3 separate regions of the Homo sapiens genome follow, and all the other regions are linked to region 1. Evidence: fine-mapped expression QTL. A gene starts in region 1. Each other region holds a variant in brackets. All regions are shown on one strand. Distances are from middle to middle.

Region 1 (9,811 bases):
ACAGAGTTTCACCATGTTGGCCAGGCTGGTCTCGAACTCCTGACCTTGTGATTCGGCCTCCCAAAGTGCTGGGATTACAGGTGTGAGCCACCACACCCAGCCTCCTTTGTTTTCTTCTAAGTGCTTCAGAGTTTAACTCTTACATTTAAATCTATGATTGGAGTTAATTTGTGTGTGTGTTGTAAGGAAAGGGTCCAATTTCATTGTTTTACATGTAGATATGCAGTTGCCCCAGCACCATTTGCTCAAAAGAGAAGTCCTTTTGAGTGTCCCCTTTATTTAATGTCTTATTCCAACCTGTCACCAAATTTTGCTCTTTTTCCCCTTTAAAATGCTGAGTCATCCTTTCACTACTACCACCAGTTCCCAATCAAAACTTTCACCATCCCACACCTAGGTAACTGCATTTGCATCTATCCTTCCAGACTCTGCAAGCCAATCCTTCTAGGGAAGAAGCTTTCAGACATGGAATTGAACTCACGTTATTTACCTGCTCAGAAGAAGTTCCTACTATAATGTATACAGCATGGGGGCAAACTCCGTGTTCTGACTTCTCTAATCTGGCCCCACCATGTCCACACCAACAGATCAAAGACCCAAAACTTCATCGTTGTTCAACTTTTCACTGAAGTGGAATTCTCTTTCTTCTACTGTCCCTTTCCCCTTCACCTTCTTCCTTTCTTTGCACTAAAATTAACTAAAGTTAAAATTCTGTAGGTCCTTAAAGTCTCCTCCAAACCCCAGCTCCTTGATAAAGCCTCCTTTGACCACCCCAGTCCTCACCAATCCTCTCTGACTTCCTACTACATTTGTGTGCTCTGTGGCACCAGTCATACGCTGATGACATTGGTACACACAATTCCACTCTACCACCCAACATCAATGAGCATTTATTGAGCATCTACTGAAGCTCACAGCATTGTGCAGGCAGGATACATATCATACAAATGCTGTTTCCTCCTCCCACCAAATGAGGGAGAATTAGATGAGATTTTTAAAAATTCCTCCTAGTTCTACAACCAGTATTGTATACTGATCCAATTTGGAAGTTTAAGTTTAAAATTAATTCAAGGATTCCAGTTGAGGAAATGGTCCCACTTCCTTGGAAAGTAAACTAGCTCGGTCACCAGGCTAGGTTACCCACGTTGTAATTGCTTGTGATTGACTACTCCACCGTATTAATGATGAAGTGCCCCCGACTTGAGATGCAGGCGTTAGGGCATCTGTGATTTGATCTGCAGCTTAAACTGGGAGACCACTCCAAATCCTCAAAGTTAACTTTGAGTATCAGATTGCAATCCCTCCCCCCACCACCATAAAAAAAAAATCTTTCAAATTGAAGAGGCAAAGTTTGAACCTTTCCTTGTTGAGAGATGAGAACAATAGCAGCTTTCTGCTCTAGCACAGCTTCAAAAGGCTGCCGAGGGACTGCTCTGAGAATTCTTGGTTGTAGATGACTGAAGAAATGCATGGGCAGCCTCCTGCGATTCAGTGCCGCATTAGCACCGGGGAAATTCTGTCCCCACCCTCCCAGAACCTTTAGTATAGCAACGATTTAACTAGGCAGATATGGGCAACTGCAAAATTGAGTCTCCTTGGCAAGGAGTGGGGAGATCCAGCCGATTAAGCAACATCTTACTGTGAAAGGCCAAAGCATTAAGAATTTGCTGAAATGATCTAAATAATATCTAGATTTTTAAAAAATCTAGCTTGAGAGGGGTGACTCTCTGGTTGGATTTATGCCAGAGGCATGCGTCCCTTCTAGCTGCAAGAAAATGCCCGAGGCGAGGTACCAAGCTTGGGCTGGAAGTAGCAACCCCTGACTTAATCCCAGAGCGCGCAGAGCTGGTCCGTCCCCTGCGCAAGTGTCACTGCGGGTTCACCTACCGGCCTCTTCCTCTCGCAGGTGGCATGCAGTCGGCGCTCGCCGCCCGCCCGCAAAGAAACGGCAATGCAAACTTCCCAGCCTGGGAACCCCGCTGCTTGGAGAGCAGCTCCGCTGTGCCAGCCGCCGCCAGGAGACTGGTATTCAACCTCCCCGCCCCCCGCCACGGTTAAAGTTTGCTCCACATTCGCAGCTCCCACCCCACCCCCATCTCCGCCCCGAGGCAGGAGGACCACATAGGAGTTCCTGGGTCCACCGTGCGCAAACACACCCACCAACAAAAGAAAGCCCATTAAATCTTCCCTCCTGTGAACTCGCGCCCCAACGGATACCTCTTTGAACTGACCCCCGCCCCCGCAGCCCCCGCGCTGTCTGGGGCGCGCCTGGCCCTCCCGGGCTTACTCTCTCCCCCACAGCTGCGCACTTTTGCAGCGCGCTCGGTCTTTGATGTCTCTTTACATTATGGCAGAGCAGCCACACGCTCTTCCCGGGCGCGGGGCTTTGTGTAATGGAACTGACATTTGGCCTTGATACCTGTATCTCTTGGTGATTACAACAAATTTCTAAAATAAATATTGTACTTTGATCTCCCAGCATTGCATTTTTAATGGACGCTCTCAACATTACTTCATTAAGAACTTTTTCCAGGAGCTCCGAGGGCCAAGGGGGTTGGGGGAGACTAAACAGCTATTCAGCAAAGCCTCTCTCCAAACTTCAGCTGGGGCCTGGGAGGACCGGAATCTGGACGGGTTTTCACAAACGGAGATGAGGCCGAGAGCAGCCAACTGCGACCACTCAAGAGAGGGCCTTCTGTACGCTCAGCACCGTCCTAAAGACCTTGCGTATATTAACTCTTAAACCTATAGCCACTCTACAAGGGGTGCACTATTGTAACTCCCATTTTACAAACCGCAAAACTGAGGTACACAGCGGCTGAGTACCTTGCTTGCCAAGGTCACCAACTAGAAAGTGGCAAGGCGGGAAAAATGTCTTCAGAGAGTTCGGACTCCGAGCTTTCAACCACCAAGCCACTAACTTTGACCCTGTTGGCCCACTGATGGTTTAACTGGCTAATGGGGGCATCTTGGAGAAAAAGCTAATTCCCATAACTATGGGGATGTGAAATGGCTTTTCTGGCCTTTTTGGGAAAGTAGCTATCAGATTCAATAAAAAGGGCTGCCTTCCATCCTGCTTAGCCCGGCCCTGCCCGCCTCCCTGGGAAAGGGGACTTCGAAGATCTCAAAGAAGCTGGAAAGGAAACCAGCGCTAAGGAACCAGATCGCTTCGAGGGTGCAAGCATGTGCAGGCGCGAGTGTGTGCCAAGGGGCTCCCTGGCCTCCGACTTGCATCCAGGGAAGAGCTCCCTCGAGTCTCACGCTTCTCCAAGACTCAAATCCTGGACGGGAGCGTGGGAAGGAGCAGGTTGGCCAGGCCTCGGATGAAACCACTAAGCTCTCTCCCCTTCTCCGCTCCCAGAGCAGCCGACCTCATCTTCAGAAGCCAGATCGGGTCGGCCAAGTTGTGTGGTCGCCGCTCGCGTTTTAGAGGGGACAACTCGTTGGGGGAGAAGGGGGCGTGCGAGTGCAGGATGTGCGAGGGACCCATTGTATTTGGGTCGCAAGCAGCCCACCCGTCTTGAGTACGATATTCTCATTCCGCAGGCGCGCCCTGGGCGTGGGAGAAGGTGGGCCCGGAGGCATCGCATCCCCGACCCCTGATGGAAGTGCGGAGGGCATCCTTATACAGTCCAGATTCCGAGTCCGTTGTAGTTAGGCTAACCTCTGACGCTGCATCGGGAGATAGGTCACCCCGTCCGTCCCGGTCGCAGTGCGGTTCCCGTGAGGAAGACGGGCAGAGAGGCCGGGCGCGAACTGATTAGGGGCTCCCCCACGGCCGGCGGCCTGGAGAGTGGAGACTGTGTCCGACGGGAGGTGGGTGGGGGAGAGGAGTAGGCCGAGCTCCGGCGGCCACTCCGCAGTGCGCTCTCGCGAGCCGGGGCCGCGAGGCCTCCAACGCGGTTCCGCACCCCTAATGCCCCAGGGCGGTGAGCACCCCGCGGTTCCCCGCCCGCCTCTTCCTCCTTCCCCGCCCGCGCGCCCGGGAGAGGCGATCCCCGCGTCCGCAGTGCCGGGGCAGGACGCGCCCTGCGCCCTGGGCCAGGAGGAGGCAGGTGGCCCTCCTCGGCAGGAGGTGAGCCGCCAGGGAGGGATGGGGGTCACCCAAGCCCCTGCAAGCGCGACCCTGCCCAGAGCAAAGCACGCCCCGCGCCTGGTGAGGAACTTTTTCTTTCCAAAGGTGGCAGGAACAAGTCTGTACTGACTTTTCTCCCGCCTTCGGGATCCTCTCTCGTATGATTTGTGGTTTGTGGGACCACAACAACCAGGCTTCCTCGACCGCGCCTTTTTTCCAGTAGCTCCTGGTCTGCCAGGCTTGCGAGAGGGCGCGCTGGCTTGGCGGGGCTCCGGGCGAGAAATCACCAGCAGCGCTGGGGCTTTCGGCCCCCCACAGCCCAGCCCGGGCCTCCTGGGTGGCCTGGGGAGAAGGGGGCGGGACAGCACAGCTTCTTCCCCTCGGGTGGGCATGACGGGTCGCCTTGGGTGTCCTGCCGAGCTCAGCTTTGAGGGTATGCGCGGCGCGGGTGTTTTTCCCAGGTCCACTCTGCAAAAGTTGTGGCCTGAGGAAAACTTCCAGGTCGCCAGCAGGAACGTCACAGGAGAGCCCCGGTCGCTCGTCAGGCGGGCGGCCCTGGAGCGTGCGCGCCACCCAACGCCGCGCTGGGCGGCCGCCCGGCCCCGCCCCAGGTCACAGCCCTGCCCTCGGCCCCACCGCGGCGGGCGGGGGACACGCGGCGGGCCGGGCGCTGTCGGTCCCACGCCCCACCGGGGATCTCGCTTGGGTCCGCTGTGTGCGCGGGCGGGTGCGTGTGCGGCGAGGGTGCAGGGTGTGCAAGTAAATACAGGGGAGAGTTACACTCTTTGCCGTCTCAAAGTCCGGCGCCTGGAAGCCGAAGGCAGATTTTTCCAGAGATAACAAAGACACTTTGTCACTTTGGGCGCTGCGTCGGTGCAAATCTTTAATTGCAAGTGTGTGTGTGTGTGTGTGTGTGTATGTTGGGGGGGGCGGGAAGAGTGTCTCGAGCAACCCAAGCGCGGGTCTCCAGGCGGCAAGGCCCCCTTTGATCAGGAAAATCCAATTATTTGTGTATATACATTTCCCACATAGTGATTACTTCATTAATTGTCCCGCCTTTATCTCCTCCCTTCCCATCCCCCCTAATAATCAGTTCTTTTATCCAGACCAACAAACACACCATAGGAGCTTTGTGGATTCAAAGGATTTGCTTTCGCTTCTGAAAGAGCCGCTATTCTTTGATGATTGGGTAGCGGCAAACTTCAAAGCCATAAATCTTCCCTCTGACTGGCTGGCGGCCCAGCAAAGTCCTTATCAAATTCTTGGAGGTGATCCTGAAGCGCTCAGACCGCGCGCGGGGCGAGCGAGCGGGGCGCGGCGAGGGGCAAGGGCGGGGAGGGCCCCGGCGCTCAGAGCAGGCGCCAGGGAGGCAGGCTGGGCGGCCCTTCGTCCTCGCCTTCGGGTGTCCATGCCTCGGCGGCGGCGTCCCGCTCCGCAGCCAGGGGCCTGCAAGCCGTAGCCATGGCCGCGGTGGCCGTCCTCCGGAACGACTCGCTGCAGGCCTTTCTCCAGGTCAGGGCCGAGCCCGGAGGGGGCGGGAGAAAGGTGGAAAGGGCCGTGTCCGGATCTCTCCTGGTACTCCGTGCACCTTGAACCTCAAAGGGAACCCCGCCGATGGGTGCAGCTGGAGCCAGGCCTAGGGGTGCCCACGCCAACTTCACACCTAATCCGGTGTGGCCTTTGCTGGAGGGACGCGTGGATCCGGGATTGTTCGGAGGTGCCCGGCTGGCCGAGAACAGGACCGGAGCTCACCCTGCTGGGCCCTCCTGCTGATTTCAGCCTGGGGCGGGCCAGGGAGGAGCGCGAAGGCAGTGAGGACAAGAGAGCTTAAAAGATGGGAGGGAGAGCGGCCGGCCGGCGGGGTTGTGGGTGTTTCCCGACTCTTACTGACCACGGAGCCGGGAGGGGCCCGTCGGATGCCTCCCCCTCCCACTTCGCGCCTGCTTCCTCTAAGGCTGGATGGCGTCTCAGTGCACCAAGTAGTTTAGCAAGAAGCGCTCGCGGGCCCCACGTTCAGGTAGCGCAGGCACCAAAAGTTTCCCTCGGCCGGTGGGTGCGTGCGTGGGGTGCGGTGGCGGGGGAGGGACGGCCGGGACGGAGGAGGGGCGGCGGTATAATAGCGGGCGTGGGGGCGGCGGGCTGGCCCGGAGTCCGCGCTTGGAGCTAACCTTTTGTCTCTTCTCCGCCCTCCCTCGCCGCCTATGCAGGACCGCACCCCCAGCGCCTCCCCGGACCTGGGCAAGCACTCGCCCCTGGCATTGCTGGCCGCCACCTGTAGCCGCATCGGCCAGCCGGGCGCGGCGGCGCCCCCGGACTTCCTGCAGGTGCCCTACGACCCCGCGCTGGGCTCACCCTCCAGGCTCTTCCACCCGTGGACCGCCGACATGCCGGCGCACTCGCCAGGCGCACTGCCGCCCCCGCATCCCAGCTTGGGGCTGACGCCGCAGAAGACGCACCTGCAGCCGTCCTTCGGGGCTGCGCACGAGCTTCCCCTTACACCCCCCGCCGACCCCTCGTACCCCTACGAGTTCTCGCCGGTCAAGATGCTGCCCTCGAGCATGGCGGCTCTGCCCGCCAGCTGCGCGCCCGCCTACGTGCCCTACGCGGCGCAGGCCGCGCTGCCGCCAGGCTACTCCAACCTGCTGCCTCCGCCGCCGCCACCGCCCCCGCCGCCCACCTGCCGCCAGTTGTCACCCAACCCGGCCCCCGACGACCTCCCGTGGTGGAGCATCCCGCAGGCGGGCGCCGGGCCGGGGGCCTCCGGGGTTCCGGGAAGCGGCCTCTCCGGCGCCTGTGCCGGGGCCCCCCACGCGCCCCGCTTCCCCGCCTCTGCGGCCGCTGCTGCTGCGGCCGCCGCCGCCCTACAAAGAGGCCTGGTGTTGGGCCCGTCGGACTTTGCGCAGTACCAGAGCCAGATCGCCGCGCTGCTGCAGACCAAGGCCCCCCTGGCGGCCACGGCCAGGAGGTGCCGCCGCTGCCGCTGTCCCAACTGCCAGGCGGCGGGCGGCGCCCCCGAGGCGGAGCCGGGGAAGAAGAAGCAGCACGTGTGCCACGTGCCGGGCTGCGGCAAGGTGTACGGGAAGACGTCGCACCTGAAGGCGCACCTGCGCTGGCACACGGGCGAGCGACCCTTCGTGTGCAACTGGCTCTTCTGCGGGAAGAGCTTCACGCGCTCGGACGAGCTGCAGCGGCACCTGCGGACTCACACGGGCGAGAAGCGCTTTGCCTGTCCCGAGTGCGGCAAGCGCTTCATGCGCAGCGACCACCTCGCGAAGCACGTCAAGACTCACCAGAATAAGAAGCTCAAAGTCGCTGAGGCCGGGGTTAAGCGGGAGGACGCGCGGGACCTGTGAGCCCTCCCGGAGGTGGACCCCCTTCCCAGCACCTCTGCGAGAGATCCGGGGACCTGTGGGCAGCTGGCGGAGGGGAGACTCAGCAGACGGACCCTCTCCGTTGCCTGCCTCCCAAAATGGAGCCAGGCTTCCAACTTCCGCTGCCTTCGGACATAGGGACCCAGTTCCCAGGAGCGGGGAGGTAGGGTTGGGGCTGGGGCATTTGGATTGTAATTGGGAGCTCTGCCGTACGCCAGGGCGGTTCCAAACTCTAAACCGTTCCCACCGTCAGGGAGACCTACAGTTTCGGGGGACCACCCTGGTCTGGCCTTGTATATAGGAAATGCTGCTGAACTGAATAGAAAGGAACTTGGGAGATTTGAAACAGTGCTCGGGTTTTCGCTAGGACCGGTTTGGGCTTTGTACAGGTTATTTAATAGCTTTGTTAAAGATAATTATAATAATTATAACATTAATAAAAATGTTGCTTTTGTCTTCAGCTCCATGCAGAGCTACAGCATGATATGTCTCTGTAAAGTGATCAGCAGTTGCAGCGTGAAAATAAATACTTTAACTCAGGGGTCACTACAGGAAGACCCCGTTGAGCCGGTCTCATTTGATCTTTTCTTCTTCTGGGTGGCTGTACTAAGCGGTCGGGTTTCCCCGGGAATTTGATGGTTCCTATAGTCTGCCTGTGTCGGAGGCTTCTTTGGTTTGGAAGGATCTGGGCAAATGTGTTGGGTTCAGGAATGGACAAAGGCAGGCAATTCCGTTTTGTGGTAAAGAGGTAGGGCAAGATTTTCCAATCACAATTTGAGTTTCTCATGCGGCCTTAGGATTCACCCGAGACTGTTTGTCTTCCAAGTTTGTTTTTACCTGACGAATTCCCTGTGGCTTTCTATTTGTTGGTACTCTCGGGACAGGTCACAACTATGCTGGTGTTAAGAGAGGTATTAGAGGCGCCAGGATCTGTTCACAGGTGAGACTTTGTGGAGAGGTACAGAGAAACGGGACCCTTGTTCAGGTTGGTCTTTGCCTGGGAAAGAACCAAGAAGATAGTTTCCCAGACGCCACTCCTGTATTTCAGTCCCGTCACGATAGCCAGCGTTGTTTTGCTTGTTTTCTTTTTAATCTTGCGATGGAAATCTTAACAAGTCTTATTTCACAGTAACCACCCAGGAATTTCTGGCTAGGCCAGGACGTTTAGTTCCATTTTGTATCTGAATTTTATTATGTTTTTAATCATTGAAGTAGTCTAAGATTTTCTCAGGGAAGAGCCAGGAATACTCATGGTTTGGAAATGTGGAAATAGGGTATTTTTTGTCTAGGTGCCTCGCCTTTCTCTAAAAGTTGAAGTTTTGAAGTTTACAAATGTTTTATCAAGTGTCTAACTCCTTGATATTTTCTAATATTTGAGTTTTTAAACCTGTAACTGAAACTTTTATCAGCAGTTAAATCTTGATTTAAGATTAGCAAAGAACAGAAAATGTTCTAAATTTTATTAACATGTTAAGCTAGCATCATTAATGCCAAATTTTAATAGAGCCGAATAATCTTTTCATGATAGTTGAAGTGTGTACAAATTGATAGGATTTCACAGTTCACAAACTGCTTTTACTTTGCCTTTTGTTTGAAGTCAAACTGAAGGATCAGTTCTTAAAAGCTTTGAGGGTTGTTCTTGAATTCTTATACGAAGTAAAACACAAATATCAACATAATTCAGATGAAAATTACTTTTATACTCCTAAGAAATGGCATTTTTATTCTGTAACTTGGGACAAGGTAGTAAATGAATATTAGATTCATAGTGGCAATATACCTTAGAATAAGAGATATTGGAACTATTTAATGACTAATTAGAATGTGAGTCTTCATGGTTCTTCACCTGGGAAGAGGAGTTTGGGTTACATTTTCAAGGGTGTGGCAGTTTGCAAGCAATAGTGATAAAGTTGCTAGGCAGTAATATTAATATACACTTAAATATGTAATCTTAATCAAAATCATTAGATCTAAGTCATTAGATCAAGACTACACATTTTGATGTCTAAAGCAATGTGAAAAGTTATAGAAACTCTCACCTTTCTCTAAAAAGTTACAGAAACTCCCATCTGAACCATGCCCTGGGATCAACTATAGATTCAGAAAAGGATTTTTGGAAAGTGGTGAGAAAGAGGAATCCTTGTTAGAGAGTGAAAATTTTCAAAGGCTTTGGACTCAAAATTTGAAATGATTCTTTCATCTGAAAGAATGACCTTGGTAGAGAAAGAAAAATGGCCATTTAAAAATGAGTCTACTAGCTATTATTGACAGAGCCAATCATTTATTTAGTATCCAAACAGAAGAGGTGTTGAAGATAAAGTTTTCTTATAATTTTTTGGTTGTTAAATATATGGAATTTAATATC
Region 2 (9,811 bases), 100 kb after region 1:
CTTGCTCTGTTGCCCAGGCTGGAGTGCAGTGGGCAATCTCAGCTCACTGCAACCTCTGCCTCCCAGGTTCAAGCAATTCTGCCTCAGCCTCCTGAGTAGCTGGGATCACAGGCGTGCGCAACAATGCCTGGCTAATTTTTTTATTTTTAGTAGAGACGGGGGTTTCACCACGTTGGCCAGGCTGATCTCGAACTCCTGACCTCAGGTGATTTGCCTGCCTCAGCCTCCCAAAGTGCTGGGAATTACAGGCGTGAGCCACCACGCCCGGCCTAAAATGGGTTCTATGAGCATCAAATAAGATAGCCCACAAGGCTGATATTAACCCCCATTTTACTTAGAAGTAAACTTGGAGCAGTCAAACAATAGCCGATAAGTAGAATCTAGATGTAAACTCAAGTCAGACTGACTTCAACATTTTTGCTTTTCTCCCAGTAAAAGCTGCCTTGAGGGCCTCAAGAGGTTCTTGAGTCCATGGTATTTACAACATGAGAAGAGTTGCCAGTGAGAAGAATCACAAAATACCTGTAATAATAAATTGTTTCAGATGAATGAAACCTCATCTGGTCTTATCTTGTACCCAAACCCTCCCATTATGGGGGTCTGGAGAGATTCTGTGATTTTTCCAAGGTCAAATGATTATTATGTGACAGAGCCAGAAGGCTTCACTGAACAAGCATAAGGCGCTGGGACTGAGAGAAGAAGAAAGCATTTCCAGCCCCCTGCGCACTAAGCATGTGGTCTGGGAAGTCCTGTAGCCTCTCTGGACTTAAGTTTCCTCATCAAGAAAACAGAAGACCTCAGGTGATAATTAACTGAGAATTCATACAATAAACACACCACACAATTTCCCTGAGACTTATTTCCTTCCTCTATGAGGATAATTATTAGTCGTGTTGCTAAAGAGAGAGAGACCGCAAGAGAGACCGAGATATATAGAGAGAGTTCTCTAATGTCCCCCACAGACCCCAGCACCACCACTGTTGGCCAGACTGGGCCCACAGTAAGCAATTCTGGGCAGCCTATGTCAGACTTTACCCTGAGTTCCACCTTGCGCCTGCGTTGGCTTTTTTTTTTTTTTTTTTTTTTTTTGAGGCAAGAGTCTCACTCTGTTGCTCAGGCTGGAGTGCAGTGGCACGATCTTGGCTCCCTGCAACCTCTGCCTCCCGACTTCACATGATTCTCGTGCCTCAGACTCCCAAGTAGCTGGGATTCCAGGTCGTGCAGCACCATAACTGGCTAATTTTTGTATGTTTAATAGAGATTGGGTTTCTCCATGTTGCCCAGGCTAGTCTCGAACTCCTGGCCTCAAGAGATCTGCCTGCCTCGGCCTCCTAAAGTGCAGGGATTACAGGCGTGAACCACCGCACACAGTCCCCGTTGCCCTTCTTGGTATAGGAGAGTGTATTCGTCAGCTATTGTCACAATATTTGATATAGTTTGGATGTTTGTCCTCTCTAATCTCGTGCTGAAATGTGACCCCCAATGTTGAAGGTGGGGCCTAATGGGAACGGCAATCAATCATGCACCCCTTCTGTTAAAGTTCCAGTTTCCTCCCCTGAGTAACTGGTCAGGATTAGGGGAAGAAACCTGGCCTGGAATAGAAGTTTAAGTTATTAGATTCGCCACAACTAAGTCAGAACTTTCCAGAACCTTTTCACAAACAACAGTCCCAGATACCTATGTTTGAAAATGGGGACTAAATATCTGTTATTTTAAGTAGTCCAAGAGCTTTTACACTAAAAGAAATGAATAAAATATTACTCTCCTCAGTCTCCCATGAATTCTGTATTTCACTAAAGCATCTCAGGTGGGAAATCCTCCTTTTTGCATCCCACCCTTTTGGGGAAGGACTGATTTCGCCTTGGTTTTTGTTGAGATCAGAAGACACAGATATACCTTTAAAGCTCCCCATCAGAATTACAATCCAGAACTGTATTTCCTTGGTTTCCAGTTTTGCAGTGAATCAGTTTCTTGCCTAATATTCACAGGTTCACTACATTTGAGACACAGCTAGGTGGGAAAAAAACAGATGCCATGCACCCCCTAGTCTTTCACCAAAGAGACGCACTACCCTAGGTGTTTCAGGTCACTTCCAGAGCACTTCTGACCATTTGAAAAGGCCCTGCTTTGTGAAATTTGGCAGGGATGAGTATGAGCCTGCATTCTTCCTTGAAGAACTGCTCCCTTGGGAGGCCTGTTGTTTCTTCTCAGAAATTGTAATCTATTGCCACCTGGTGGTCATTCTGTCTTCGAGTTTAGAATAGCAAGAATTGGACGTTTCAAGATTTGCACAAGGAGATTTGCCCAAACACAAATCACCCTGTCCTCCTTGATTCATTTATTTGTATTAGAATATTTTCATCTTCTGACTATCAAGGGGGAAGGACCATTTGCCAGTTATCCGAAGAATCCAGCTCTCTTCTTTAGAAAAAGTGGCTGTAATTCCTAGAGTCCTCTCCAGCCTTCCAGCATTCTGCTGTCACCCCTCCCACCCCCTCTCACCCTTTTAACATTTTCCTGCCTCCCAGCTGTGAGTGTTGTGTGGTCTGTTGGGATGGGGGTGTGGATTTAGCTATGATCCTTCAAAAAAGTCCAGAATAATTCAGGGAACTATCTTTAAAGTACAAAAACAGCAAATGGACCTTAGCTCCGACTTAAGCAGAATGAAAGGTTAAGTAACGCTTCCCCCAGTTCTCGTCTCGGGAGACAGACGTTTAACCGGTGAGCACTGCCATTTTTTTTTTCCTTTCTGGTCATAAATTAGACACTTAAAATAGATTTTAAGGAGCCAGCTGAAACGAACCAATACCATGGCTCTAAATTACGTTTCCTGGAGGCTAAAAATTCTAATTGCGTCAAAAAAAATTGACGTGTCCTGTCTACTCACCTTGACTGACCACGTTTTAGGCGTGAAGATCTCCCCGCAGCCCGTTTGGGCGCTCCTTCAACGCCTCACGCTCCTCCTACTCACCCGTTTTTCCCTTTGCAGAAAAGGCTTGGCCCCAAATCCGGTTGGAATATCTTTAAACAATCCCCCACCCACCCACGACGGGGAAAGGAATAAAGGGCATTGTGGGCGGAGGGTCGTGTTCCCAAGTCCCAGCGGTGGTTGACCTAAGGAAACGTTATCCTCGGCAGACAGGGTGGAGTAGCCGGGGCTGCAAGCTCGCAAATCCCTAATGCCGGAGAGAGACTGGAGGGGTCGCATATCGCCCCCTCCTTCTTCTGCCTTTGAGCGCCGCGTTCCCATTTCTTCAAAGCGCTTCAAATACAATCGAAACAGCTGGGCGGACACCACTCCCTTCCGGGCCACCCCTCATCACCGGTTCGAGTCCCCGGAGAGGATATCTTTTTTCCACCCCCATTATCCCAAGAATCCTCCCCCAGGAATGATAAAAGATTAAAGGAAGAGTGAAAGACATAAACAAAAATATAGGTTTCAAATGTTGTTTAGAGCCGAATGACAACCACGGCCACTCTTAGTTCAAATTCCTACCGGAGAGAAGAGCAGTGGGCGAAATACCTCACCCCCCAACTAGGCAAAACAAACAGCAGTTACTGTCAGGAGGGAGGAGGGCTGGGGCGAGTCTGGTGGGTTGGCCCATAGCTATTGGCGGAAGCAAACGAAACAGAGGCATGGGGACCAGAAGGACGGGCGCTGTCCTTCGTGCTGAAAGATCTATGCCCTACCT[C/G]AAAACTCAGTAATCTGGATGGAGTGGAATTCCAGGCCTTCAATTCATTACCATTCCTGCTGTGCCCAAGAGTTCGAGTTGGAGGAGATCATTGAAAATTAAATCAAATTTATGAAGTTTCTAAGTGCGCTCCTCTCCCTGCCTCACCGGAATGTCCACTCCCGGCGTGCAGGATAATATAAACCGCAGGGACAATGCAAGCTCCAAAAAATAAGTGCTTGGCACATAGTAGGGGATTAATAAATATTCGTTTAATCAATTACTGCTAATATTCAATTAAACATTCTAAACAAGGACGGACAAAAGTCTTCATTCCTCCCCTACTCACCATAAAGGAGAAAGAGAGGGATGTCCTCGAAGCTGGACGGACTCAGCTTCAGCTTGCGTTACCTAGCCTTGCAGGAGATTCCTTCTCCAACGAGATTATTTCATTGGCTAAAACGTTAGGGGTGTTTTGAACTCTGGGGTCAAAGGAGGAAGTGGTTGGAAATGTCTCAATCTCGTGCCACAGGTGAAGTAAACGAATCTTCCTTTCCAGGGAATCACGGGTTTTGGGAAAAGGTTGAGGCGAGCGGGCGTCTATGCTGGACAATGAAGAACGAGGGGCACCGGGAGATGTGTTGCCTCCTCCTTCCTGTCTCCTGCCCCGTGCGTCTTGAATGATTTAGCACTGGCACCTGGCTCCCTGATTGGTGCGAGCGTCTCGTTTAGGGAAGGCTCTAGGAGGGCCGGTGGATGGAATTCCGAGCTTCACCTGGTTGTATGCCGCCCACTTCAAGCAGCGCAGAGCAGCTGCCGGTTGAGTGGTTTGGGGGGACGTTTCCTACGTGGAGCAGACACCCCCAGCCTGTCCAGCCCCAAGCCTCAGTGCCCGGGGCTGCAGTCACCGCGCGCCCCGCCGTTTAGGATGTTTTTTGTGTCCTTAAAAAGTGCCGGGGATTTCATCGTCAGGTGGAGACAAGGCGACAAAACAGTAGTTTCTTTAGTACCAAAGGCAACGCGATTATTTCAAACCCCACAGCGAGATCCCTCTTGCTGATCAGGCCATGTCTGCCCAGGGCGGACCCTTCGATCTCCCTTATGGAACTCTCGGTAATTTATAATATTTTTGTGTGTGTTTCCATTGTGTTGTGGTGAAAGGCGATAAGGCATTCAAAGAAAACGGACGGGCCTCCGCTGAACCAGTGAGGCCCCAGACGTGCGCATAAATAACCCCTGCGTGCTGCACCACCTGGGGAGAGGGGGAGGACCACGGTAAATACCAGTAAAGGAATCACTGCCTACACGGTGTCACCCAGACACGCACAGACATCAACATTTTTGCCCTAAAGAAAAAAACTGGGGGAGAAGAAAGGGGAGAACTTAAACTAGTGACAGGGCGGTGAGGGAAGGCATGAAGAGGCAAGCCGGCGCGTAACCGTCTGGCCAGCAGCTCCAGGTGTGGGCTCCGCTCGGGCGCTGGCGGAGAGACCCGGGAGCGCAGGGCCTCTCCGTCTCTGGGCTCTTGGCGCCCTCTGGTGGGAATTTCTCTTTCAACGCATTTTTACGGCGAGGGGCTTCTCCCAACGCAGCGGTTCTTTTAACTACGCCTAAATATTGCAAAGGGAGAATCCTTAAAGCGCGTGAAATCGAAGGGGGAGCGGGCCAGGGCAAGGGGGGCTGGTCCGCCCCTTCCGGGCACCTCTGTGCTCGGGTGCCCCATGCGCGTGCAGCGGCGCTCGTGCGTGTCATCAACCTTCAAACGTGATTAATCAGGAGGCCTTCTTTTCCCATCACCAAGGGGGCCAAAGCGAGGAGCGAGCGCATAGCAAAAGGGACGCGGGGTCCTTTTCTCTGCCGGTGGCACTGGGTAGCTGTGGCCAGGTGTGGTACTTTGATGGGGCCCAGGGCTGGATGAGGAAACTGTAATTCCTCCATGGTCTAAGAGGTCTCCCCTCATTTCTGCCTCCTTTGCGGTTACAACAATCCCAGCTCCGTAGAGAGCCAACGAGGACACGACCCAAAGCGCGCTTTCGCTCAAGGAAGCGTCGCAGGGTCACAGATCTGGGGGAACCCCGGGGAAAAGCACTGAGGCAAAACCGCCGCTCGTCTCCTACAATATATGGGAGGGGGAGGGGAAATGGGAGAGGGGAAAGGAGGGGAGGGAAGAAGAAACGCTCAGAAAGGCAGAATTCTTCGTAGGAATTATCTTTTCCCTCCTCTCACCCGACAGCCTGCCTATTTCCAAAGGAAAAAAAAAAAGCGTGTTGAGTACGTTCTGGATTACTCATAAGACCTTTTTTTTTTCCTTCCGGGCGCAAAACCGTGAGCTGGATTTATAATCGCCCTATAAAGCTCCAGAGGCGGTCAGGCACCTGCAGAGGAGCCCCGCCGCTCCGCCGACTAGCTGCCCCCGCGAGCAACGGCCTCGTGATTTCCCCGCCGATCCGGTCCCCGCCTCCCCACTCTGCCCCCGCCTACCCCGGAGCCGTGCAGCCGCCTCTCCGAATCTCTCTCTTCTCCTGGCGCTCGCGTGCGAGAGGGAACTAGCGAGAACGAGGAAGCAGCTGGAGGTGACGCCGGGCAGATTACGCCTGTCAGGGCCGAGCCGAGCGGATCGCTGGGCGCTGTGCAGAGGAAAGGCGGGAGTGCCCGGCTCGCTGTCGCAGAGCCGAGGTGGGTAAGCTAGCGACCACCTGGACTTCCCAGCGCCCAACCGTGGCTTTTCAGCCAGGTCCTCTCCTCCCGCGGCTTCTCAACCAACCCCATCCCAGCGCCGGCCACCCAACCTCCCGAAATGAGTGCTTCCTGCCCGCCCTAGTCCCTGCTCTCCACGGGTGCGCTGCGCAGGGACCCCCCCCCCCCCGCCTCCCTCGTCACTCTTCTTATCCCTGCCCTCCGGATTCACGCCCCGGGGAAGCACGGAGGCTGAGGCTCTAGTTGAAGTGGGGCAAGAGCGATTTTCCCTTGAGCTTCCATGCTGCGAGCGCCTGTCCCTCCAAAGGGCGCCTGGGCAGCAGCAGCCGAAGGCGCTACTAGGAACGGTAACCTGTTACTTTTCCAGGGGCCGTAGTCGACCCGCTGCCCGAGTTGCTGTGCGACTGCGCGCGCGGGGCTAGGAGTGAGGTCGGAGGGAGGGTGTGGAGGCGATGGCCGGTGGGCCCTTCTCTGTGGGGTCCTCGATCTACCCAGATTAGCCCGCAATCTCTCTGTCCCGGGGCCTTCGGGCGCCATCGCGCCAGCGCCGAGAGTCGAGCAGGGGCGCCGCGCAAGATCTTTGTCCGCCGCCTCCTGCGCGCTGCGCGCAAGTTCGTTTCCCCGGTGACGTTCCCCATGCTTACTTACCCCACCCTCTCTGGATCTGTACCGCGAGAAATCTGGGGTCCTCAGGGGGCTAGGTAGAGGAGAAACGCTGAAACCGGACCGAAACCTCGCCCTAGGCTTAGCGATGGCTAAAAACCGGCTGGGATAAGAGGGAGGCAAGCAACATTCCGACTCGCTGCTTTCTGGCTGTCTGGAGTGCAAGGTGACTGTGGTTCTTCTCTGGCCAAGTCCGAGGGAGAACGTAAAGATATGGGCCTTTTTCCCCCTCTCACCTTGTCTCACCAAAGTCCCTAGTCCCCGGAGCAGTTAGCCTCTTTCTTTCCAGGGAATTAGCCAGACACAACAACGGGAACCAGACACCGAACCAGACATGCCCGCCCCGTGCGCCCTCCCCCCGCTGGCCCACACGCCGGCTGCTGAGTGCCCAATGGGGCTTGTAGCGGCTCGGCTGGAAAATCGCTCACTGAGCGCTCCCCTGTGCTCCTAGCCTAGTCCCCCACACCCTTGCGTCTTGTACTGGCCTTGGACCCCCACCCCGACCCCGACCCCGCCTCGTCTCGGCGCTTCACTCCAGGTCGCGCCGATGCACCGCCAGACTCGAGAGCGGCCCAGGGCTACGCTCCCTGCGCCCCAGTACCGGAGCTAGCGCGCACGTCTCCTCCGCTGCCCCCACCCCTGCGCACCCCTACCAGGCAGGCTCGCTGCCTTTCCTCCCTCTTGTCTCTCCAGAGCCGGATCTTCAAGGGGAGCCTCCGTGCCCCCGGCTGCTCAGTCCCTCCGGTGTGCAGGACCCCGGAAGTCCTCCCCGCACAGCTCTCGCTTCTCTTTGCAGCCTGTTTCTGCGCCGGACCAGTCGAGGACTCTGGACAGTAGAGGCCCCGGGACGACCGAGCTGATGGCGTCTTCGACCCCATCTTCGTCCGCAACCTCCTCGAACGCGGGAGCGGACCCCAATACCACTAACCTGCGCCCCACAAGTAGGTCCCGCCCCAATTTTCTATCAAATGAACTGCAGGGAAGATGGGGGCGCTGGGACGTCGGGAGGCTGAGCTGGCGGAAAGGGAAGGGGGAGCGCGGAGATAATGGAGGCTGGGAAATAAATGGGGCTCTGACCCCGTCCCTGCCAGAGGTCATTCGGCTGTCAGGGACGCTAGGTGACTCCCAGGGCACCGGAAAGCGAGGACCACGCAAGGTCCGAGCAGCGGCGATCGTTGAGGGCTTCGCGGAGGAGGAGGGGCGCGCAGCCAGGGTGTTGTTTTTATTCTGTTGTGTGTGGTTTCTTTGCTCCGTGGGACGACAGGGGTCAGCGCAGGGGGCGGAATGAAGAGCTAGGAGCCCCAGCAGGAATAAGAGTTTTCAGTCCCCGGCTTTCGTTGAGCCAAGATCTGACCTCCTCCTTTCCCCCTGGGCTGTGTTCAAAGTCTATAATCAGCGGAAATTTCGACGTTAATTGCAGCTTTTAGAAAACTCAAGGTCCCTAATTGCTCCAAATTTGCATCAAGCTATTGACGAGTTAGGGAGAAGTCAGGGGCGGGAAAGGTGCATAAAACTGAGACTGAGCCTTGACATTTCATACAATTAATTACATCTCAGAGAAATAAATAAATAAATAAATAAATAGGGGAGCGGGCGGCATCCTGAGTGGCAAGAGATGGGGAACTGGGAGGGGGCAAGAAGCTTTATCATAGAGAGGAGAGAGCACCTCTCTCCTTATCCCAGGCAAGAGATCTGTCAGGAGGTGACATGTCCCGAAAAGAGAGAAAGAAAAGAGACACCAGATAAAAGAGGGGGGAGGATTTATGCTTCCCTGTCTTAAGTGCGACAGGCTCCTCAACCCATTTCCAGAATCTATCTTTAATTTTATTTCCTACCTCTGTAAAGGCTTGAGATGAGAAAATTGTTTTTCTTTTTCCTTGTTGGAGTGAAGAAGTGTCTCCTGACCCCACCCCCCTAAAAAAACTTATCAGCTTCAGACTGTAAGTGTTCCCACTCCCCCATTTATTTATTTCTGAGATGTAATTAATTGTATGAATTTCCAGAATTTGTATACAGAAAGGGCTTAAGAAGGATAGTGTGGTTACAGGGAGTGCTTATTGATGCGCTTTTATGGCACTTTATATTTGAGAAAATAAGTATCCTCATCAATGAAGTGGGGATTATTACCGGAAAGCCCCTTTAGACGCTGGCATTGGCTCCCGGGCAGGAGGTCTCGTGTTAAGTCCTCAGGTCTCATTCCAATTTCCTTTGCAGCTCCCTCTTCCCGCCACCCAGGAGGGATACAATTACCCACACAACAAAGAGGGCCTCGGGAGAGTCGCCAGCCCTGGTAGCATATGAACCAGGCACCGGCGTTGGAGCTGGCCAGGGCAGGGCGGGAGGAACGCGAGGCCTGCGCGCCTTTGTGTGGTGCTTTCGCCTTGATGGATTTCTTTTCTGACGCTTTCCACATTTCCCGCTCCCTTTTGCCGCCTGGGGGTGGGGGTGGGGGGTTAGCGGGCAGTTGTGTTAATTTGCCCTCCACTCCCGGCGCCCTTACGGAATTCCCGGTGGCCGCCAGTCGCCGGCGCAAATGCCAAGTCACCGGTAGGAGACACAACAGAGGCGATGACCTGAATCCGCACGTGGCCTGGTTCGCCTGGAAGCTGCCAAAGCGAAGGCAAGAGAGCCCGGGACCCTGCTGTAAAACAGCAAGCAGCACGTGTCCCAGGCACACTGTTGCGGGCCCTTAGCCTAGCTACGCATCCGCACCCCAGGCTTCAAAGGCGCGCTGGGCGCTCTATCCACTCTCACCCTCCCTTGCAGACAATACCTTTGCC
Region 3 (9,811 bases), 340 kb before region 1:
TTTCTTCTATAAAACGGGGGTTATTTTGAGGGTTAAGTGAGTCAATACATGTAAAATGCTTAGAATAATGCAACCTCCATAAATGTTAGTAGTAGAAGTAGTGTACAAGGTCTATTTAATTCTGAGTCTTTCATTTCTTTTTAACACTAACTACCTCTTGCCCATAATCTGTGCAAATTCATCTTTTTACTTACTGTACAAGATCATGAAAATAAACACTACTGAGGTACTGAATGTTTAAAATATCCCATTTTATCTCTTATTCAATATCTAATTTATTCATTCAAGAGGCATTTATACATGTGTATGTGTCAGGCCCTATGCTGAACAGAGGGACTACAAAGGCAAATCAGATGCAGTTCCTGATAAAGAGCTAATAGTCTGGTGTGTGATAGAGACAAGAATCAGGTGAGAACAGTTCAAAATGAAAAGTACCTAGATAAAGGAATGCCTGGGATACCTCTCAGAGCACCTGGTAAAGACACCTAAGTCAGTCTGGGGTTGGGATGGTAGGGGAAGATGCCCTGGAGCTGCTGGGTAGATGATCCTTGAACTGCCCTGAAGAACAAATCAAAGATAGTCAAGGAAAGGGGGTTATTCGGGGTAGAGGGGAAAGAAAGAGCAATGAGCAAAGGGCAAGGCACAAGGGCTAGAGAGAGCTTGGGGAATCTGGTGAACAATTAGTTGACATGGCTGGAGCTTGGCATGGGGTAGGTGGGAGGGAGAGACAAGGTAGACAGGAGCCACGTCACCATGGGCCTAAGGAGCTTGAATTTGTTTCTTAGGTGCTAGGGAGCCATTGAAGAGTTCCAGAAAGTTGTTCTGATTGCAGTATGGAGAATGAAGCAGGGTAAGGCTGCAGCCAGGGAACTAGTGAGCAGATCATAGTAATTACAAATGGCAGAAGATATTAAAATAATGATATTGTCAGGACTTAGTGATGGATTGATTGAGGGAGATTAGGGAAACAGAGAAGTGTGTTGGGGCCTACCCAAACTGGGCTGCCTCCCTGGCCTGGTTCACAATGCAATCATGTAGAAATTGCAAGACACGTCTTCATAGTCTATCAAATGCAATGCCAAGTACTTCCAGATATTACACAAAGCTTCCAGCTTTCTGCCCAAAAGAGAGTTCTTCAATGGTCTAGGCAGTCCTGGGCCCTCCAGCTGTAGCAACTCTTTTTGGATTTGAGAGCTGATACAGAGTAATGAAACCTATAATCTACAGGGAAAACTTTCTTACCATTCCTGCAAAGGTAAGGAACGTTCAGTCCACTTTAGTACTTTTCCCAGGGGAGAGAGAAGTTGGTAGTTTGAGCAGGATGCAGGGAAGAATGCAAGTTCTTAAAGGATGGGGGAACACTTGGACAGGTAAAGGGGAAGGATATATATAGAGAGGGAGACAACGAAGACAGAAGAGAGAGGAAGCAATGGAGGAAGCAAGAGGGAGTGGGTCAGGGGCCTAAAAGGGAGGTTGACTTTAGAAAGAGAGAAACTCTAAGTTGGGAAAGACACAGAAAGGTTAGATAAAAGTACTCAGAAAACTTAGGAGAGGAGGCATTGTGAGGAAATTCATGTTGAATGGCCTTTAAAAAAAAAAAAAAAACTTAGCAAGGTTTCAGAGTTGGGAGTGGATTGTGGACTCCAGGGAATCGTTAAATCTTTGAGATATTCACTATGAGGAATATGATAAAGGGTCAGTTAAAGATCGACATCATGATTGCTTAATAGCATAGAAAACCCAGGTAGAATGCAACTGAATAGCATCCTATTGTAGTGAAGTTAATCAGTGTCTAAGATAATGCATGTAGAGCATTCAGGACACTTGGCACTAGAAACTCTCAGAAAATGCACCATCACCACTGCCGCCTTTCTCATCTGTCATCTCAATTAACTCTTAGCAGCAAGGAGTTAGGAGTAGAGAAAGCAGACATTATGGTCTTCTTCAGGCTAGAGACTGACTTCAGTGGACATGATGAGTGGGCAAGGAAGCAAGGGAATCGAGGTTAGTAGAAGAGTGGCCTTGGGATCTTTGTGGGTAGGGAAGAAAGTGACACCAGACTGGCTTATTGACTTTGAGGCTGATCTAGTCCTGGGACTGGCTATTACAACAAAGATGAAGAGCAGATTCAGTGAGGGGATGATGAGAAAAGGGATTGTAGAACTGAGATCCTAGGAACTTTTGATAGATAATTAGGAACTAAGGATAGCTGAGCTTGTGGGCAACTTCGGTGGAATAGAAAGAAATGTTTTTTAAGTGTTGACAGGTTGAGGAACTCTTAGATCAGATCCATCTCAGTTATGGCACATATTCAAGAGTATTCAAAAACAAGGCTAAGAATCATGGAGGGCTTGTTCACATAGAGCAGAAGCTGTACTGTGCTTGGAGGGCTTGAATTTGTAAGTCCCCTGTCTCACCTCTCCTGGGTCTAACCATTCAGGCTTTTCTGAGTGCTTTTTGGAAAGCCAGGATGTGATTCATCCCTATTTCACTCTCTCTATATATATATATGCATACATACACACACACACACACACACACACACACACACACACACACACTACAGATATAGATACAGGACAGCAGAGGCACCTGTGGAGAAGTGATATTGTACTATTTGAGATTTGATAGATACCATTACCTGATGCTGATTATAGTGTATGTATGACATCATTGGAATTTAAGTTTTTCCAGTAAATTATAATTGTGCCAATGCATGTATTTGATTCAGGTACAATAGAGCAGTTATTAATCCAAGTCTTACTCTTTTAAAGGAGTAAGCCCTAAAGGGCTAAAGAAGCCCTAAAACTATGTGAACAATGGGCTGAAAGTACATTGTTACTTCATCTGTTGGAGGTGTTTTTAAACTATTTGGTCATTTCCTTTATATCAGCACCTATTTCCTTGATCTGCAAAAAGACGACTTCTTCCCCAAACCAGTTTTGCAAATCCCTGAATTCATTAGTATCATCTGGTATGTCATCTCACTGTTAAAGTTCAGAGAAGTAGATTGAAAACATGCTTTGTATCATTTTACAAGGGTTATTGGGAGAAGAGTGAAACCACTCTCTGGAATGTGAGTGGAGGCAGGGAAAGGACTCGATTGTCTCTGCCACGACCATGAACTCAACCGTGAACCTCAGTAAAATTACAAGATCCAGCATGCCGTGCCCCTGCAGGTGGCTTGGTACTAGCTGAAACCACAGATGTTAAACCCTAAATGCCAAGGGTCTGTTCTAAGTATTACTTGGTAGAAGAATTAAGTTGCTGGGTTTTTTTTTTTTCTGCTCTGTTTAATGGGTTGTCATGTCGCCCTTGCAATTTGCCTGAGGCTGATTAAAACAATGACTTCAGCTTTTGATTTCTTTTCAACCTGCAGCAATGACCTTTAAAAACAGATTTCTCACTATTTAACTGCTAGTTTTCCCCAGTAATCCTTGCTCACTCTCTCCCTCTTCTACCTTCAAATATGTGCATGCATGCACACACACACACACACACACACAGAGCACCCCATATTATATACACTAATGGGTTATTGGGTTCTTATGTAAATAAGTAACTCCAGAAAGATTACTTCATAAAGTGCTGAAGAAGCTTAACACACAGGAGGTTAAATATCCTTTTATCTTCCTAACAGAAGAAATAAATCTATACCTTGCTATAATTAGTATCTGCTATCTATCTATACCTATATCTGTCTATCTACAAATGAGTAAGTTAGTTAATATTAATTTTATGCTGGTGTTACTGATTCTTGCCGCTTAGAGAAGTTGGGTATATCAAATACTGTTTAATATGATTAATGATAAGATGCTGATTTATTGGGATTCTGGCCAAAACGGTGCTTAGATGAAAAATGGGCAGATACTATAATAATTTCCACCCAAACAATTCTCCTATTTTAAAATTTATGCATTGTATTGTTTGAAAGACATAGCCTTAAGTTCAGGGTCAAGATACAGCTCATGTAGTTAAAGGTATCCAGCTGCTATCTCTGTCCATATTTGACTCTCAGTAGAATAATGTCATTCCTCAAAGGTCTGCTATTGTTTTTCTCGTTTGAGGTCCATTATTATATAGTTACGGTAAAATAAAAGTCCCTCTTTCATTGGCTCTGTTATCAAAGGGTATATTGAATGGAAATTAAGATTTAGAAGAAATATTCAACATCACTGACCTTGGTGTAGTAACAGTACTCTATTCTCAGTTTTGAGTAATGTTTTCTTTCTTGTATGGAATCCATTGAATGTAGTGATAAGGGAGTGATCCCTGAGTTCTCTCTATGGCCATGGAGGCTTTTGTCCTAGATTCTTGAGGACTGACATCTTTGAGCCTGCACCTTTTTCCTTATTCCCTCTCTCTATTTTTTTTTTTGCCTCTATCCGCAACAAATTTTACTTCCTTTTCCATCTGGAATCTGGTAACAGTGATAGTCATTCTCCACTTTTTGCAGTTCCACTCTTGGACGGAGGAGAGGGTTCTTATCCTGGGTGTGGAGGAGCAGAGGCAGAGGTGACCTTCACAATGGTGCTGACACAGGGTGACTCTCTAAGAAGCCAGCAGGCATTTCTCAGTGCAGAGATTAACTTCTTAGGAGTATATTGCTTGTTGTTATTATTATTAGGCTGAATTGATAAGCTAGAAGAATTTGTTTCCTTCTCATGTTTGAGTTATGATTTAGAGCACCTTTTTCTATTACTTGTTCTTCATCATAGTTGGGGAGTGAAAGGAAGAGCGTATCCTGTCTCACCTACGTGAAGTTCTTGCAGCTCTGTTTGTACCTACCTACATGGAAGCCTCCACTTCCATAGGCATAACTGGCAGACAGAAAGAGGCTAATTGATTAATGAGTCACTTTTGGGCAAAATATGTTTGTCAATATAGTTCATAGGACTAGCAGCTCAAACAAAGAAGCTAGCAGGCCCAGTGATGAGATATTAGAGAACAATGACACAGAAATGGTTTTAACCATAATGCAGATACAGAGATTAAACTAGAGTGAAAGCTGCAACACTTTAGGAGTTTATTTCATGAGAATAATTCTTCTAGTGTTTAAACCAGTTTGGTGTCCTCTAAAGCTCCTTTCCCACTCATTGGCTGGGCCAAAGATTTGAACAAAGACCCCCATCCTCTACCTCATCTATGCCCACTGTTGTCTTAGGGGAACTCCCAGCCTCTACCTCTGGCTCTGTCTTTCCCGTTCTTCAGATTCTATTCTTACGCTGCACTCATTTCCTTGGACTTGATGGTACAGACTTGCCCTCATTCCCACCCTACTTGATCCATGGATTCAGGCACCAGTTTCCCCTTTACCTGATCCCTGAAACCTAAGGCCCGTCCTGCTCTCCACAGTCTCCCGCTCCACTGCCACACCAAAAGCAAACTCCAGGAACCAGTCCAAGCCAAGACTTTCCCTCTAAGCTCCAACTCGCAAACTCTGTTTGTCTGAGAAGCCAGCCTTGGCAGCCAACATACTTACAAA[C/G]TCATAAAAACAAGTAGGAAATCTAAGAAAAGCAATATAAACTTTACTGGAATTTGAAAACGTCTTCTGAGCCATTAAAACTACAGTGCCTTACCACATACTTTTGATTTAGTAGAATGTTTTTTGCTGTTTATCCATTCATTTATCTATGTCTCCATTCCTCTGAGCTTTGGAATACTCGATCCAAGTAGCTTTTAGTTGGAGATCTGTAATTTTCACATTAAACGAGGAATTCTTCAGCAAAAATTGATAATAGGTCCTATTCTCAAGTAGGGCACTAGATGGAGCATGTGAATTTAAAGGAAATTAAGATCTATAGTTACTAATGACACAAATCACTTAACTCAATAAAATTAAAAAAATAAACCAAGTTTATTTTTATTAATTTCAACTAAAAATAGAGAAATATAAAACAACGTAACGCTTTTTATAAGCTTATGCAAAGTCTAGGAAAATGTTTTTAAAGGAGATAAAAATTGAAATAAATAATGCTTTTTCTCTACGATAGACCCTCCAAACCCCATAGCCAGAGGAGGAAAGTTAAGCGGGCAGCAGTTTCCAAAGAACACTAGTTGTGGAAGGCAGAAATAGTGCTACACATATATATATTTTTTCTGGTTGAGAAAACGAAGTGGTCTTTATCAGAGTAGAGAAGTCTTGCATCTACATCCACTTCTAGATTGCCTACTTCACTTTTAGGAGCAAATATTTCTAAAGAATTTGATCACCTGTAAGCATGGAAAGAGGCCACACATTGCTACTAATAGCAGTTAAAATTTTTAAAAAGTTATTTTTTGTTAATACAATATTATTGGGGAAGATTTTTTACAAGAATCAAGCTCAGATTTGCAGACAACATCTGCATGATTCTTGGAAGTTATATCTGTGAGACAGATTGGCATAGCACACAATCTCCTTCAGGCTCAGAAGATACCAATGTTGATCCTAGTGATATTGCATTGTGTATATTCACACTGAAAATTAAAACTTTCTACTAGACTGCATCTATTTGTGAGATTGCAAGTAAGGTTTGGTCCATGCTTCCATTTTTAGTTGGCTATAAAAATGTCATCCAATGTGAAGCTTGGCATTTCTGTATGCAGCTCAGGCTGCCATTAAATCCAGGTCAGGAGTTACTGAAGGAAAAAAAAGCCTGGAAAACTCACCATTGGTTCAGTGGTATTTTGAGTTCTGACTTCCTTCCCCAGTCTGCCTGTTACAATTTACTTCTCAGAGTCTTAAGATAGCTGCTCCATGCATTCTGACAAGGGTATTTAGTTGTCTTCAGTGAGGAGTGGAGAGGGCTTACTCCATCTTGACCAGAACCAGATCTGAGGTAATTTTTTAATTATTGATTTTCTTTGTCAAATGATGTGCAGAATATGCAATTATAAGATATAAATGTAGGAAGGAGACAAACTAGCTGAATTTAATATGGTAATTTAATTATTTCATGAAAATGTGGTACAATTTTTTTTTTTTTTTTTTTGAGACGGAATCTTGCTCTGTTGCCAGGTTGGCATGCAGTGGCTTGATCTCGGCTCACTGCAACCTCTGCCTCCCGGGTTCAAGCAATTCTCCTGCCTCAGCCTCCTGAGTAGCTGGGGCTACAGGCGTGCACCACCACGCCTAGCTAATTTTTGTATTTTTGGTAGAGACGGGATTTCACCATGTTGGCCAGGATGGTCTTAATCTCTTGACCTTGTGATCCACCCGCCTTGGCCGCCCAAAGTGCTGGGATTACAGGCGTGAACCACTGTACCCAGCCAGTATTTTGTTTTTTGATTAACTTCAAGCAAAATTATTCTTAGGTTTTATGTGAAGGGGATTTTGATCGGAAATATGTATCCTCCTGCTGTTTTATTTAACAAAATGGCTAGCTAGAGGCAGGCAGCAGCTCTGAGTTTTAGTAAAAATCTGTATTACAAACCAATTTGATTTTTCTTTGCCATCACCAATATGTAAAGTCACAGATAAATAATTCTGTTTAATAATTTTAAACTGCTTAGGTTATAAATTTGATTTGATTAAATAAAAATTAAGCTTCATTCTACTTTGGACCTTTATATGAATTAGCAGCAAAACTGGTTCTAGGACTGGAGATGACTAATAGCATGCTTCAAATATCTCTTTTCAAATTTATCAGTGATGGAGATTGAAAGGTAAGATTTAACTTAATAGGCTAGAAAGAGAGAAATCCATTTTATTTGGCCATTAATATTGCATTATAAACTCAAGACTCAATATGCAGAGCTGATAAGTTTGCTTCTTCCTTTTTACCTACTTTTGTGAAATGCATACCAAAGGGTGGGGTGTACATCAAGATTCCATGACTTCTAGCTGGTACTTACCATAAAACTTTCAGTCAACACCAGCTTCTAGGATCTAGCTAGATAGAATTGTATTGGTGGGTGATATCCTCATAAGCTGTGATGTTGATGGGCACAAAAGTGACAGAGAAGAATCAAGAAGTTATGCTTCTGGGCTAGTGAATTTACAGTATGTAGGACAGTTTATGTATGATTTTGTTTAGTCAATGATATTCAGAGTAATGTGTGTAGTTATGCAAATTGTTGATTCCAAATGTTAACAAGGATGTAAGAATAATAATTAGTACATGTTTTCAACTTTATTGCATTTTTATATCCATGACTATATGTGCTTTCACAGCTACCTGGGAGATAGACAGATCAGTTATGAGTAATTCTATTTATAGATGAAGAAAACCGATATACTGGCTGTTAAGGGATTTGCTGAGTGTCTCATACCACATTGCTCGCAACTCTGAAACTAGGGTCCAGAGCTCTTCTAGCCAATGCTTTCCTCCTAAACCGCATTGAGGAGTGATGAGTTTATGAAAGGAATTACGGGAAGGCCTACTTTGACCTTGAATTAATTTTAAACCTTAAAGAGCTATATTTTAGTATACCAGAGGGGATTATTACTGATTATCAAACAAGATTTTTAAATCCTTAGTGAACAGTGCCCTCCAGGAGAAAAACTCACATATATACACAAAAAGATGTGTATAAAGTTTTAAGTGTTGCATTATTACTAGTAGCAAAAAAATTGGAATCAGCCTAAATGTTGATCAACATAGGACTGAGTAGGCCGGGTGCAGTGGCATATGCCTGTAATCCCAGCACTTTGAGAGGCCAAGGTGGCAGGATCACTTGAAGCCAGAAGTTTGAGATTAGCCTGGACAACAAAGCAAAACTCCATCTCTACAAAAAATAATTTTAAAAAATTAGCCAGGCACAATAGTGCATACTTCTAGTACCAGCTAGTTGAGAGGCTGAGTGGGGAGGGTTGCTTGAGCCCAAGAGTTTGAGGCTGCAGTGAGCTATGACTATGCCACTGCATTTCAGCCTGGTGACAGAGCAAGACCCCATCTCTAAAAATTACTAAATAAATAAATAAAATTTTAAAAACAACAACCCCCCCCATCGGACTGAGTAAATAAATAGGTACATATTCATAAAGTATAATACTACCCAGTGATTAAAGTGACTGAACTAGGTAGGTAGGTAAGTGGGTAAGGTAGATAGGTAGATAGATAGATAAATAGAGTTTAAAAATCATAATGTTTAATGAAAAAAGTAAGCTTACAGTATAAAACCTAAGTATGATATCATTTTTATAACTAAACATACAGAACCTGTATATTGCTCATGGGTATCTATAGGCATATGACCAATATTTAAAAATAGACTGGAAGGAAACCCATCAAATAGTGGTCACCTCAGGAGAGAGGAGTGGGATGGGACAAGGGTCACAAAGGGATTTCACATGAATAAGAAAAAACATAAACAGTGATCAATTATTTGGTATTTACTATATTAATCTCTGAAAGTGTTACGTAGGTTAAAAACTATCACAAAAGTTGGGGGTGGTGCTGGTAGATAAAGCAAGGGGACCTCAAGGGAAGTAAGGCACTTATGGCTATACCCCAGTGAGAACTATGTGCCTGACACTGAGCAGAAGTCAGAGGTGTTTATTCTGGAAGTGCTGTCTTTGGCATTTAAGAAAAGCAAGTATGTGTATTAGGTGGGCCCATTTGGTAACACTCCTCACTCTGGCAGGAAGTAGACTTGAACTATGGAGATCACTTTATCCCAATAGTTCTACAGTGGCAGGAAAAGCCTGGGGACCTGGACTGGACTTCCTGTCCCTGTCTCTGAAGTCTCTGAACATATCACGTGATAAGATTGTGAATGAGCCATGCTTGCTGCCCGCTTTCTGCTACATTATTTGCTGTCTTAATGCTTAAACTCTCTTGATAAATTTCTAGGCATGAGAGGATGCATACCAGAAGACCTTATCATG

Direction of the effects. Positions count from the first base shown, and alleles are read on the strand shown. Sizes are in standard deviations (SD) of each study's normalised expression. Not every link is listed here.
For the expression in tibial artery of the gene that starts at base 5,361 in region 1, allele G in region 3 goes with a higher level than allele C (moderate effect, 0.63 SD a copy in GTEx).

The links. PIP is the estimated chance that this variant, and not a neighbour inherited with it, causes the effect.
Region 2: its variant is fine-mapped to the expression of SP5 in tibial artery (GTEx, PIP above 0.99).
Region 3: its variant is fine-mapped to the expression of SP5 in tibial artery (GTEx, PIP above 0.99). The same link has a PIP of 0.9 or more in coronary artery.

The regions. Positions count from the first base shown.
Region 1 is chr2:170,709,977-170,719,787 of GRCh38, forward strand. SP5 (Sp5 transcription factor) reads left to right here and starts at 5,361. Exons shown (of 2, transcript NM_001003845.3): 1 at 5,361-5,587; 2 at 6,283-8,102. The coding sequence starts at 5,537. The coding sequence ends at 7,428. The region is part of intron 5 of ERICH2-DT (ERICH2 divergent transcript); the gene reads right to left. It overlaps LINC01124 (long intergenic non-protein coding RNA 1124), which reads right to left and starts at 4,591. Exons shown (of 1, transcript NR_027433.1): 1 at 2,463-4,591. LOC100130256 (a long non-coding RNA gene) reads right to left here and starts at 2,031. Exons shown (of 10, transcript NR_187629.1): 1 at 1,888-2,031. RefSeq lists a silencer at 4,678-4,727 and enhancers at 4,945-5,734, 5,735-6,522, 6,523-7,312.
Region 2 is chr2:170,810,702-170,820,512 of GRCh38, forward strand. It overlaps GAD1 (glutamate decarboxylase 1), which reads left to right and starts at 6,186. Exons shown (of 17, transcript NM_000817.3): 1 at 6,186-6,347; 2 at 7,828-7,972. The coding sequence starts at 7,891. GAD1-AS1 (GAD1 antisense RNA 1) reads right to left here and starts at 7,950. Exons shown (of 4, transcript NR_197761.1): 1 at 7,685-7,950; 2 at 7,017-7,214; 3 at 6,153-6,331; 4 at 3,922-5,784. RefSeq lists a silencer at 6,001-6,080 and enhancers at 6,168-6,337, 7,577-8,100, 8,101-8,623. The variant C/G (reference allele first, on the strand shown) is at 3,693.
Region 3 is chr2:170,372,240-170,382,050 of GRCh38, forward strand. MYO3B (myosin IIIB) reads left to right here. Exons shown (of 35, transcript NM_138995.5): 10 at 9,777-9,811. Among named protein-coding and RNA genes, the nearest start is that of MYO3B-AS1, 26 kb to the left of the region's middle. The variant C/G (reference allele first, on the strand shown) is at 5,486.